Linked DNA regions of Homo sapiens. The protein of the gene in region 1 interacts with the protein of each later gene in a pairwise test. Each region holds a gene or a part of one and is shown on either strand. Other genes may lie near its edges.

What was found.
Region 2: the proteins of SNX33 (region 1) and NAF1 interact in binary tests that used the Homo sapiens proteins (3 or more experiments, as listed by UniProt).

Annotation. Positions count from the first base shown.
Region 1 is NC_000015.10:75,657,769-75,662,949, forward strand, and holds the end of SNX33 (sorting nexin-33), read left to right. Parts: 3' UTR 1-4,533; downstream 4,534-5,181. UniProt on the Homo sapiens protein: Plays a role in the reorganization of the cytoskeleton, endocytosis and cellular vesicle trafficking via its interactions with membranes, WASL, DNM1 and DNM2. Acts both during interphase and at the end of mitotic cell divisions.
Region 2 is NC_000004.12:163,142,865-163,150,155, reverse strand, and holds part of NAF1 (H/ACA ribonucleoprotein complex non-core subunit NAF1), read left to right. Parts: intron 1-1,721; coding exon 1,722-1,815; intron 1,816-4,291; coding exon 4,292-4,374; intron 4,375-7,291. UniProt on the Homo sapiens protein: RNA-binding protein required for the maturation of box H/ACA snoRNPs complex and ribosome biogenesis.

The DNA.
Region 1 (5,181 bases):
AACATTTGGGCAGTGTTTTGAAGAATGACAAGGGCCTGCCAGACAGTACATGGGGGAGAAGGACTTTCAGGGGAGAGGAACAGCATGGGCAAAGTTATGGAGGCATGCAAACATCTCCCTCTTCTCTCCCTTACTTTCCAAGCAAGTTAGGTACGCTTTCCATGGGGATTCTGGCCTGTGTGGTAGGAAGGGATCTCCCTTGCTCCCATGTTGCTGGCTGTCCGTACATCACCCTGTCCCCTGCAGGAGGGGGCTACAGGCCATCTCCCTCCTGTAGGCCTCTGACTCCCCTCCACTTTTGGGCCCTCAGCTTATCTCGGGCAGGGGACCATTGCAGCATCCTCCCCTCCTCGGACTCAAGGTGCTGAGGTATAAGCCCTGGGCCCCAGATCCCTGGTGACACCTTCCTGGAGAAGACTCTCAAAAGTGACTGTATATTTGAGTTCACCAGCAATAACTCCCCACACTCGAAGCAGGTCCAAACCCAGGATCTCAGGGTCCTTGGGCTCTGTGGCACTGTCTTCCCAAGATCCTTCCTGTTGCACAATGGGAAACCTAAGAGGAAAAAGACAGGGGCCTGCTTGCCCAGCCATGCGAGGGATTCCATGCCCACCTGCCCTCTGTCTGCCTCGCTGGAATGTGGGCCCCTGCTCCCCGTCAGGTTGTGCTGTCTCTGACCTATGTTTACATCCCCGAGGGGTTTCTGCCTCCTCCCCACCCAGGTCAGGGTGTGGTCCAGCAGCTTGCTGTGGGGTGCTGACATGTGTCACCACTGCCCCCCTTGCCCCCGGGGGGGTCATGGTCTCCTCCTGGATGCTGCTCCTTGAATCTTTTTTCTTGATAAACCTTTTACAATTAAGATAACACAAGCATGACTTTTTCTGTTTGGATCCCAGAAAGGCGGAGGGCAGGAGAAGGATAGAGCCCTAATTGCTCCTGAGAGCCATTGGATGAGATTCTGAGGTCGTGGTGGGCACAAATTTTCCACAGAACCTCAAAAGTTCAGGGGAGGGCTATGCTGGTGGAAGGTGCCAGCAGGCAGGAGGAGCTAGAGGCGGCTGTGGACCCCTGGGTGGATCCATCCCTCCCTAGAACGCACTCTTGTCTCTAAAACAGGTGGAGTGCTGCCCAGGGGACTGGCTGTACTGCCTTGTGATCTGGGGCTGAGGGTTGTATGAGGAAGGGACAGGACGCTGTGCCCTAGGACAATTAATAGATGGTGGCTCCTCTCCCCAAGGAGCCATGCCCTGGCCTTGCCCTTGAAAAGCCCTAGTCCAGGGGAGGGAAGTGGGGGACTCAGAAGCTGTGTCTCTTCCCCAAACCGTCCTGGGTACCCAGCCCTGCGGAGGCTCCCACATTGGAAACTGAAGAGGACGCTGGCTGTTGGGGGTGCCCTGATCAGGATGAGCGGACCTTGCTCTTGGATCTGTTCATCCACAGATGAGAGGAGGGTACTGGTTGAGACTTGGCTCTCCTTTGGAGGCAATGGGGACTTGGTGGAGGGAGGGCTTCCAGGGTCAAGGCCGTCAGGGAAGGTTGGCTAGACCAGGGACCAGGGAGCTTGTGCAGGAAGATGGAGAAGGGCCAGCAGGTGCGGTGGGGGAAGGGGCGGGCAGGACTCCCTGTTCAGGGCATAGCGTCCTCAGAGGAACTTCTGGAATGGGTCCCCCTGGCCCTTGGTCAACATTAGGTCAGATTTGGGACTTTCTGAGGAATTTTCCCCTCTCTCCACCCTGCCCCATTTTCTAACCCATCCGAGGAACTTCCCGCCCTTAACCTCTTCTCAGCTCTGCCATCCATGTAGCCATCTGCAGAAGGGGCTCTGAGCAGTGGGGGCTGGGCCAGGCCGAGGCAGGGCTGGTGGGAATGCTCCTCCTAACCCATGGTGCCTGGAAAGTCCCCTGCTCATGCTTCCTGCTCTGGGAACAGTGTTGTCCTCTGTGTGCCTTCCTTGAGAGGGGACCACCTCCCAGGCCTTCCATCCTCAGGGTGAGGCCATCAGTCTGATACTTTTCTCAGGAGGGACTTGGATCCAGGAGAAGCATCAGGAAGTGGAGTCTTGGGATAATGCCAGGCCTGCTCCTGGTATCCTGAGGTCTCTGGGCTGGGGCAGGTGTGTGTGTGGCAGGGAGGGAGGCTGTCCTGGCCCTCCTCTCTCTTTTCTTTCTGCCTCTATGGGGGTGGGGGTATTGGGGGAACTTGGGGCCGTTCTGGGGTAGCTAAGCCCCTTTCAGCAGGAGATTGGGGGACCAGTGTTGGGGGCATCCTGGTGATGGCCGATTCCTGCCTCGTCACATGCCAGGCAGATGTTCCCGACTCGGCTGGACCCAGCTGCCTCGTTTCCTCCCTTACTTTGCTCTGAGGGGGTGGAAAACAAGGCTTCTCTTTCTGCCCTGGACAGCTACCAGCACCCGGGGTAGGGGATCCCCTGGTCACCAGTCTTGGCCCAGTACAGGAAAAGGAATCCGCTTTGTGGCCACAGATGGGGGCTGGGGATGGAAGCAGACCTCAGATCCTGCATCTCTTCACCCGCTGGACACAGGAGGGCTATGAACCACTGTGCCGTGGCTGCACCACTGGCTGGAGCAGAGCCAGGCCTGGGAGAGGCAGGTGGCCCCATCGGCCCCTGCTCTGCACCACCCCTCCCAGATGACAGAGCCATATGTCTTCCACGTGTCTACACACTCACAGACTCACGAATGTAATCGCTCAGTCTCACAACAAGCACACGCAGTCACACACCTGCCCACAGGCACATACGCCACATAAGCATGCCTGTATGCTCACACAGTCATACTGCCACACGCTATTACACATTCACAGCCACAGCCACACATGCCTTGCCATCCATTCAAAGCACCAGTGGCTACTTTGTCAGACACAGCCACACCACAGTCCTATGCACATGGTCATAGCCTCACACAGTGACACATACTCGGGCACACACCGCCACAAAGCCATGCTTGCACAGAGCAAAGGTGTCATAAGCATCTCTGTGCCTGGACTGCACCTGCATGACCTCCCAGGGTCCCCACCTCATCAGAGATTAAGGAGAGCTTTGCTTGGAGACACCACCCCTGGAGGGGGTGTCTCCAAGGGGGAGTAGAGCCAGTCACAAGCACCACATACAGGCACACAGCCTGAGGTCTAGGGATGCAATTGGGATGACTGGATACCACCAAGTTCAGCTCCTTATTGAACAGATGGGCGCCTGAGGCCCAGGGAGCAGTGGTGGCTGGCCTTATCACCCAGCAGGGCAGGGGATACTCTGGGGCCAGAGCCTGGCTCTGGGCAGACTCTGTTTCCTGGCCCTGCCCTCCCCTGGGCCAATCCTCTGGGCCAGGCTGCCTCTGAAGGCCCCTGGCTGAACCGATCCAGCAGAGCTCCAGGCAGCTCCCTTCTCAAGCTAGAGCTGAGCTGCAGTGGCCACGGGAGCCGGAGCCAGGATGCGGTGGGCAGGGCCTAGGCCTGGGCGGGAGGAACATTCCTGCACCATCTCCTCCCCAAGCATGTGAGGACCCAGCCCGCCCTGCCCGCCTGCCCGCTGACTCAGGCCTCCAGGAGCCAAGCCTGCTCAGCTCCCCCACCCACCCTAACCTGCTTCCCCACTAGTTCGGCTCTGGTTCCCCTCTCCACTGGCTGGGGCAGGAGAAGACGGTGAGCCCTGGTAGGAAGACCATGGGGAAAAATCAAACCTCACCACCCCCCGACATAGCTCAGAAGGGCTGATTGTGAAACCCAGCTCTGTTCAACATAGTTGAACACAAACTTTTTTTTTCTTTTGGTTTGGTTTTGTTTTGTTGGTCAAACCCCAGTGCAGTGCAGTCTGTTTAAGAAGTAGTGTCGCATAGCTGTGGCCTGGATCTGCTCAGCAGCCCCAGTAGGCAGCATTTATTCCCTTTCGCAACAAAGAGACTGAGACTTGGCCAGAGGGAAGATGGGACCTGCCTAGGTTCACACAGGGAATCTCTGGCGGGGCTGGACTCAAACCCAGCTCCCTGCCATCACTCCTTAGAGTCACACTGATGAACTCATTTAGGGCCAAAGGAAGAAGGGGAGGCAGATTTCCCCTCTAGATGAGTGAAGGGATAGGAGGCTGGTGAACCCAACGGCTGAAATGTGAAGGGTGAGAGGGTAGGGTGAGTCCCCCCAGCCCTGAGGGATGAAGGGTCTGAAGATGGCACTGCACGGTGACAGCTGCAGTGACTCAGGAGCTCCGTTTACAAAGGAACATGAGTGAGGAACATAACTTAATTTTTTTTTATATCTGACCTGAATTTCTGTTTTCCTCCCCCATTCCCCACATGGTAGAAGTGTAATCTCACATCAATTTGGGGACCCTTTCTTTCCCCAGGGATGTGTAGAACTTTTGGGGATGGCACATTTGAAGACCTTAGGGAGCTTTGCATTTTAAAGGCTGAATCCCACACTCTATCATACATATTAATATTTACCTGCATTCCACATTAAAGGGTTCAGTTTATGACTTGTGTCCTGTCTTGTAGATACTTAATTAAACGGTATTAATTTTGATTTTGCCCCTTTCTGTTGGTGCTCTGCTCTCTTCCCTCCTCCCCGCCCTGCCCACCCAGCAGCACACATTGTTACGGGTTGCTTCTTGCAGAACTCCTGGACCTGGATGCTGCCATTGGGCCTGCGATGCCCGCCATGGTCCTGGTCAGCATTGGGCCCTCCGATCATCTTGCCCTGCCTCCTGCCTTTCCCCTGCATGCTCCCTTGATGCCCATCCTGAGTCTCTGTGTGTCTGGCTCTTCTCTGCTCTTGGGCACTCAGGGCTCCTTCCATTTGCCCTGTACTAAGGGGCTGATAGAGGTCCTTTCTGTGGCCTGTGGCCCCCTCTGGGGCCTGTGGTCATCATTCCACAGCTCCCACTTCGCAGTCAAGCACAGGGAGCTCTGGGGTGCCGCTTAGACACCCCATGCCACCCTGTTTCTTCTGGGATCTGGCTCCTTTCTTGGGGTTCTACCTGGGATGGGGGTATGAGTCCCACTGCTTCGGAATCTCCCAGCCTCTGGGGATTCTACTATCTCCCAGTGCAGGCAGCACTGTGATGGGCACTGGATGGTCGTTATTTTACAACCACCCCATGTGCAAGAGATTATTACTGTCATTTTACACACCAGGAAATGGGGTCCAGCGAGGGGGGTGCTGGAGTAGCCA
Region 2 (7,291 bases), on another chromosome or scaffold:
AAAATACAAAACCAGGGGCCTTTCCTGCTGGTTAAATAGCACTTGTTTATTTGAGAATATTTAACCAGTAGGCTTTATCCCAATCCAAAAGTACTCAAATTTTTGTTTTAGATCTTATAATTTGGCTAGGTAATGGGACAGATTTTATCACTGTACTTCTGGATTAGCAAATGACATTTGCCACTTAACAAGAGGAGCCACTCCCAGAACCCGAGTCAATGTGAAACTCCCCTCACAATTGCCCTCTGAAATATCATTAAAGCCCTCTTCTCTGCAGTCCCCCAAAATTATAGTTATCCAGTCTTGTATTTAACAAGGTTTGAGATTGCTTTAGCTAAGAACTTCTGTAAAAAGGCTATTTAATGTCACAGTTTGTTCTAACAACTAAACTCCCTTCTGCATTCTGATACACACATGAACCATTTTCAAACCATGGTCTTCCCAAGATAAGGCTTTCCACGTTTAATATGATGAAAGGGCAAGTGGTTATTCTCTCTTTGAAAGTACTCATAAGAATTCTGATGGATAAAACAAAATAATTTCCTCTAACACCAGGCAGACTAACCATACAAAGGCATGTTGCTGACTTCCTTCTGCATCAGTTGGTTGAGACCCGTAGTGTTGCTCTCCATAAGTAATCCTGTATCAGAAAATAGCATATCCCAGAAACAAAGTGTATTTTAGATGTCTGCTTATCAACTCTGGTTGAATGATTTTAAGAACCTAGTTTAAGTTTCCGTAGGGGTAATATGATTACTCAGGATGCATTCGTCTGCAGTATACTTCATGTTATGTAGGTTTTCCCACCTTTTCCAACATTTCTCCAAAAGTTATCCTTCTCCCAGTTTAACTGCTAAAATGCCATTGGTAGGGTCTTTGCACTTCAAGCCATCTTGAGGAAAAGCTTCCTTCTGAGAGTTAGATCATTTGGCAAGGGTCAAGAACAGAAAGCTGTGTTTTTAATCTAAAGGCTAAGGTCAGATTTATTCTTAGATTTCTCTTCAGATTCATCTGTACTTCAATATCTAGTTTCCATAGCAACTGAGATGCAGTTTGCAGGTGGGTAAGAAAAGAGAAATCTTTAGGTGTAAAGAAACTTATTTTTTAACCTAGAGAGAGAAGGTATCAGGCAACACCTTCATAGTTTTTATAGGCTAAAGCCTATATTCTTTTTTCAGGACTTCAATGTTTCACTGATAGGTGTCATTTCCTTTTTCCTGAAGAGGCCATTCAACTCTTCTTGACACAGTCGCAGAAAAGATTGCTGCTTCTGTGTTCTGTTTAATCACAGTCAAACTAATTAACTAACCAATTTAACAAGACAGCTAAAAGAACTTATGTGGAGAAATTATAGTTACTAGTAGAATTATTTCTTTTCAAATGGAATGTCTCTGCCTGATAATAGCCTTTTTTACAGGAAGTAGGTAGTCTCTTGTTCAAGTGTGACTGAAAGAATGTAGAATAGTACTTATGTCTGTGTTCTTAGTCTAACTGAATTTGGGGTGTATACTTGAGACCTGTTGAGTCACTTAGGTGGAGAAATGTTGGAGGGAGAGAAGTGCTATCACAAGTCTGCAACCACTAAAATGATAACATTAAAGAGATGCTCTAAGCACTTAAAGCATTTTCAGAGATGTGTAGCACTTAAAATGGAAAATTTATTTTTTTTAAGTTGTTGAAGCTGGAGGAAGTTTAATGTTTTGTTTTGTTTTAAATTATAGGAACTGCCTTCTGTTGAAGAACTCACTATTATTCTGCCTGAAGATATTGAGTTAAAGCCTCTTGGGATGGTTTCAAGTATTATTGAACAACTAGGTATGTTAAGAATTCTATTAATAAAAATTGTTTCCAAACACACACTAATAATTGAATCAATGACTTTTATGACTAGTAAATTTTCTTTGACATACGTAATTAACACTTTATTTTATAGTCATTAAGTTTGAAGGGATAAAATTCAGTTTTCATATACTAAAATTATATATAAATACAGTTTATTTATAGAAATTTAAATGTCTGCTTTTACTGACATACTTCCTCCGGAATTTCCTTTGATTTGGTTTATTAGTTTTCTAATGTTGCTATACCAAATTACTGCAAACTTAGTGACTTACAGCAGCACAATTTTATCATACAGTTCTCATGTGGGTCTCAGTGGGCTTAAAATCAAAGGTGTTAACAGGGCTGAGTTATTTTCTGTAGGTACTAGGGGAGAATCTTACTTCCTTGCTCTTTTTGGGTTCTAGAGCCTGCCCACATTCCTTGACTTTTGGCTCTCTTTCTTCATCCTGAAGGCCAGTAATGTAACGTCTGTCTCTGAGCCTTCTTCCATTATCTCACCTCACTCTAACCACATGTGGAAAGGTTCTCTGCTTTTAAAGACTTTTTAGATTGAGTTTACCTGCATAATCCAGGATAATCTCCCCTATCTCGTGGTCCTTAACTTTAATCACATCTGCAAAGGCTCTTAAAAATGTAATGTATTTACAGATTCAGGTATTTAGAGTGTGGATATCTCTTGGGGAGCCATTCTGCTCACCACCTTTGATTTTGTCTTAAAAACATGTGAGAAAGTTTTGTAATTTAATACTGTTATTAATGGCATGAAATATGAAGTTGCTGAGTTATAAGAGAACTTAATATTTTAGACTTCTTTAGCCCCAACATGTGAGTTTGTTCTGTGAGATTCTTGTTAATATAGGTACTATTAACTCGTAGTAGGATATGCTGGAGAATAGAACTCAGCACTGACAAAGTAATAGGATTTTGGAACTGTGAAGAGGACCTAGATTGCCCACCAGCCTCCACAGGACCTGAGGAAACAGAAAAATTCAAGTCAGTTGCTCTTAGGACCAGTTGTATAGTGAGTCAGTGGTAGAAATAGGACCTTTTTCTTTTGACTTTTTTCTAACAGTGTCTATATTGATATTTTTAAAAATTAACACTTACATAATTTTGTACTTTTTCAGTTTATTAATAAAAATGTAGATTAAAATGAACCTTCTTTTCAAAAATAATAATTAAAATTCTTTCCGTGATTCTGGAATCATTACATTTACTAGTTTTAGAGTTATGGTATTTAATAATATATATAGATAAATCAAACAGGCAACTAATTTCTTGATTATGTGGTATGATTTAAACATTTATTAGACTTGATGTATACAGAAAAATTTTAGGTCATAATGTTGATCCTCAAAAAAATAAATGTAAACTCTGACGTACATGGAATAATGCATGTCATTTTTGCATTTTTAACAATACTATTTTGACTAACATAGACTGAAAAAATTCTCAACCTAATGGGAATAAAGAGTAAATGGGTCAAAATCAGCACATGCTACTGTTGCAGATTTTTAATAGAGATTTTTAATAGAGACAAGGTCTTGCTACGTTGCCCAGGCTGGTCTCAAACTCCTGGGCTCAAGCCGTCCTTCCTCGCCAGCCTCCCAGAGTGCTGCAGGCGTGAGCCACCGTGCCCAGCCTGAAGTATCCACTGTTAAAATTAATTGAGATACAAAAGAAATTGTTTGAATTAATTTTGATAATCTGAGGTAATATATTTTATTCCCTTAGTTGACATGGTATTATCTATGTAATGTAACAGTGTTCTTACTTGTGGCTCTGATGTTCTAAAAACTTATTGAGAGTGTGTTTGTGTGTGCGTGTGTTTTCTCTTTGTTATGGTAGATCAGTTCTTTAATATTTGTGTCATTTAAAAGAACTGGAGATTTGGAGATTATGTTTTTGCTTTTTGAGGAGGGAATTTTCATGTAATGATAAAAATTACTGTGAGCTCTAGCACTTTTACTTCTTCTGTTCATAGGAAGATGCTTTTGTGAAGCCTTTTATTTAACTTTTTCATATACCAGTAACTAAACAGTGCTTTGTAGAAAAGAATTTTTAAGAGTGAGAAAGAAGACTAATTTCTTCTAAAACAGTTTTACAACTAAACGTGATTACACTATTTTTGGTAAAAATTACTTGAGAATATGTACATAGCTTGAATTTGTTGAATCTTTAATGGATGATTCAGATTTTCTGTGGGATTTGCATTTTAATTTTTTTCCCTTAGAATTATAGCTTTTTGTATTAAAAATAGGTATAAAAACATTTCCCAGTGCTATTTGGTAATAAGTAGACTTTGTTTACTGAAGAGAAAATGGTTAATGAGGTAATAATCCCACCTTCAATTTTTTTTTAAATTATGTTGGAATTAAAGCTTAGATTTTCATTAAAATTCTACATTCTCTTATAAGTAAATCTTGAAGTAATCTATTTTATTTTTCAGTAATAATTGAATCTATGACTAACCTACCTCCAGTTAATGAGGAGACTGTAATTTTTAAAAGTGATCGACAAGCAGCAGGAAAGGTTTGTAAAACATTTCAAATCTTACAAATTATTCTATTTATTTATTGTTTTTTTCTGACTTTCCCCATCAGTTCTCAGAAGAGTTTATTTATTTTAATTGATGGACAATCTAGAGCTCTCTAATTTCAGTACGTTCTTGATTTCCTTTAGTACTTCATATCTGTCTGTAAATTGGTTTAATACTGATTATTACTCTTTGCCACATGAGTTATTAAATACACATATATAGAATTCTTTCCTAGTGTTTGTCAGATAACTTGCTAGGCAGTGAGTCTACGTAATGCATAACACATCGTTTCCTACCGTCCAGATACTCAGCTGAGTGAAGAAGACTTCCCATAGTATAGTAGCTCTTAAGCATTTTTGTTTTGTGAGCTCCTTTGAATAGTGGCTCTCAGACTTTTCAGACTTTGACTTCCTCAGGTGGAAGCTCGGTGTGGAATCTTTTCCAAGTGGAAAAATATTTCACTGACAGCAATGAATTGTCACTGTAGGCACATCCTGGGGAATTACAAATATGTGCATTCAAGTAATTACTATAAGATTTGGTCCCTTTTAACATCTTTCTAATGGAACAACCCTGCATGTCCACCTTAATGTAGAAAACTGTGCACTTTACTCAGCAACTAGGCAATTCTGACTGGTTGGCAGAAGACATAAACATTCTAAAATCAAGAATGTAAATACTAAGTAAGTATTTATTTCCTGGCAATAGGGACAGTTTTATTCACCTTGATATTCCCCATTGTATCTAGTACAGTTCTTTGTAAATTATTTGTGCCAAGTAAATGTGTATTGAGTTGAATACAAACAAATAAGAAAGGAGCTATTTGTGATTTTCATGACAGTTGTCTTTTTTTCTTAGTACCTAACTTAGACAATTTTAATCTGAAAATACTCAACACTTTGCTAAATTAAAACCTCTAAACAGACATTTTTTTTGTATTTCCCACTACATTTGAATTTCTAGACCTGTAAATGTGACTAATATTAATATTCAGCTGTCATTTAGATTTGAAAGGAGTCAGATAAAATATAACATTTACACCTCTAACTTTAGTTATATGGCATAAGCCTGTTGGCAAAAATTAAATCTATTTCTAAATTTTACATAGAATGCTTTATAAATGCTTTTGAAAGACTTTGTGACAAGTTTTTAAAAAATACTTGATTATAAATCTAAGTGCCTTGAAATGATTCTCCAAAATAGTAGTGGGAGTAGAGATTAGAAAGTATTTGTTAAACAAACCAATAACCAGAATATGAAACTGAGTACCTTTTAGATTATTAGCATGTCTTATCTAAATACTAAATTAGTTTTACCTTCAGTAGCAAGCCATCGAACATCTTTTCCCTCTTTTCTTCAGTAACACGATAGTAATCAGCTACAGTGATATTTATGTTATCTTTTTAAGTTCACTGAAACCCTGCAAGGAAGTAAAATTACCTCTATTTTAAAACTTGAGAAACCTTGCTAAAAAGTCACAAAGCTGAAATGGATGAGTTTACAGCCCAGGTTCATTTCCCTTCCACCTCCCTTTGCCTTCCCCACTGATTAAGGGAGGACAGTCTCAGATTTTTATTCCTACCTTTGCCCTTTAATCCTAAGAATTGCTAGTTCCCTTGATGAACTAGTGAAATCTGTTTCCTTCTCATATATCAGTGGGTAGGAAATTTTTACTGATTCCTTTTTAAACGATTATATTACTGTCTTGTTTGGTAGGATGTGATGATTTTCTAGAGGACTCTGTATTATATTGATGGAGTGTTGTTCCCCACCCCCTCAGTTCTCATGACATATTTCAAGGTAACTTATGATACAGTAATACACACAGTGATTGAAATGATCAGTTTGCCTAACTAATAGATTAGAATACTCTATTCGTCTGTATTTTCTTCATTTTTGTTGATGGGAATTGAAAAAAGCACAAAGTGATTGATAAAAGACAATGTTGAATAGTTGTAAAGGTTCATTTCCTCATTTCCTTTCTCCTTTGGCAGTTTAGCCCAAAGCTGGCTCACCTAGAGAGACATTGTTTGAAGGCTGTTCCCAGGTGGCAGCATGCAGACCTTGGCCCTTCACAGGCACAGCCTGCCAGCATTGTTCCTAGGCCTGGAGATCCTTGATATATTTATTGTTACTTAGAGAAACTAGGATTTACCTAGTCCCCTCCTAGATAATAGAAAAACTGGGAGTTACCTAGCCCCCTCTAGATAACTTAGTAAGTTTGTGACATGGTATGTGTGTGGAGAGGGGGAGGAGAGTACAGCTCATTCTCCCTTTTGCTGTATTGTCTGTGCACCTCCAGCCTGCTGGCTCAAACAGGCCTTCTACGCCGCTGAAACTTTTGCCATGGTGCACACAGAACATTTAAGCCCAGCCTACGCTGGGATGGAATTTGGGGAACTGCATGCACTCTATATCTTCTCTGCTTGTCAGTTATTTTTCCCAGCAGATCCTACATTATAGCTGTACCACGTTGTTGTTACAGTGTGTGTTAACCTCTGTGTGTGATAGGAATCCTTGGAGATCTTGTAGCAAAAATATAATGACTTTGAGTAAAAAATGGTGAGTATTATCACCTAGAGCCAAGTGAAAGGATACCTAGAAAACCACTTCTCAATGACAGGGCAAGTATAAAGCATCAGTTGGATTAAATTTTTATATGAACACCTACAGAATATATACTAGTTTTAAAGATATAAAGAAAGCTGCTTGCCCACCTCATAGTAAAGGTCTCAGGTGCTACTTTTCCAAATTCAGTTTCTTATACTCTCCTTACAATCTATTACTTCCTTTGCTTTTATCTTGAATCAGGTAGTATGGAAGTTCCAGAATCCCCTAAGTTGGGTGGAATGACCAAGAAGGGATATGGGTGCCTCCTATGGAGCTGTATGAGGAGAAGTGGGCCGGCCT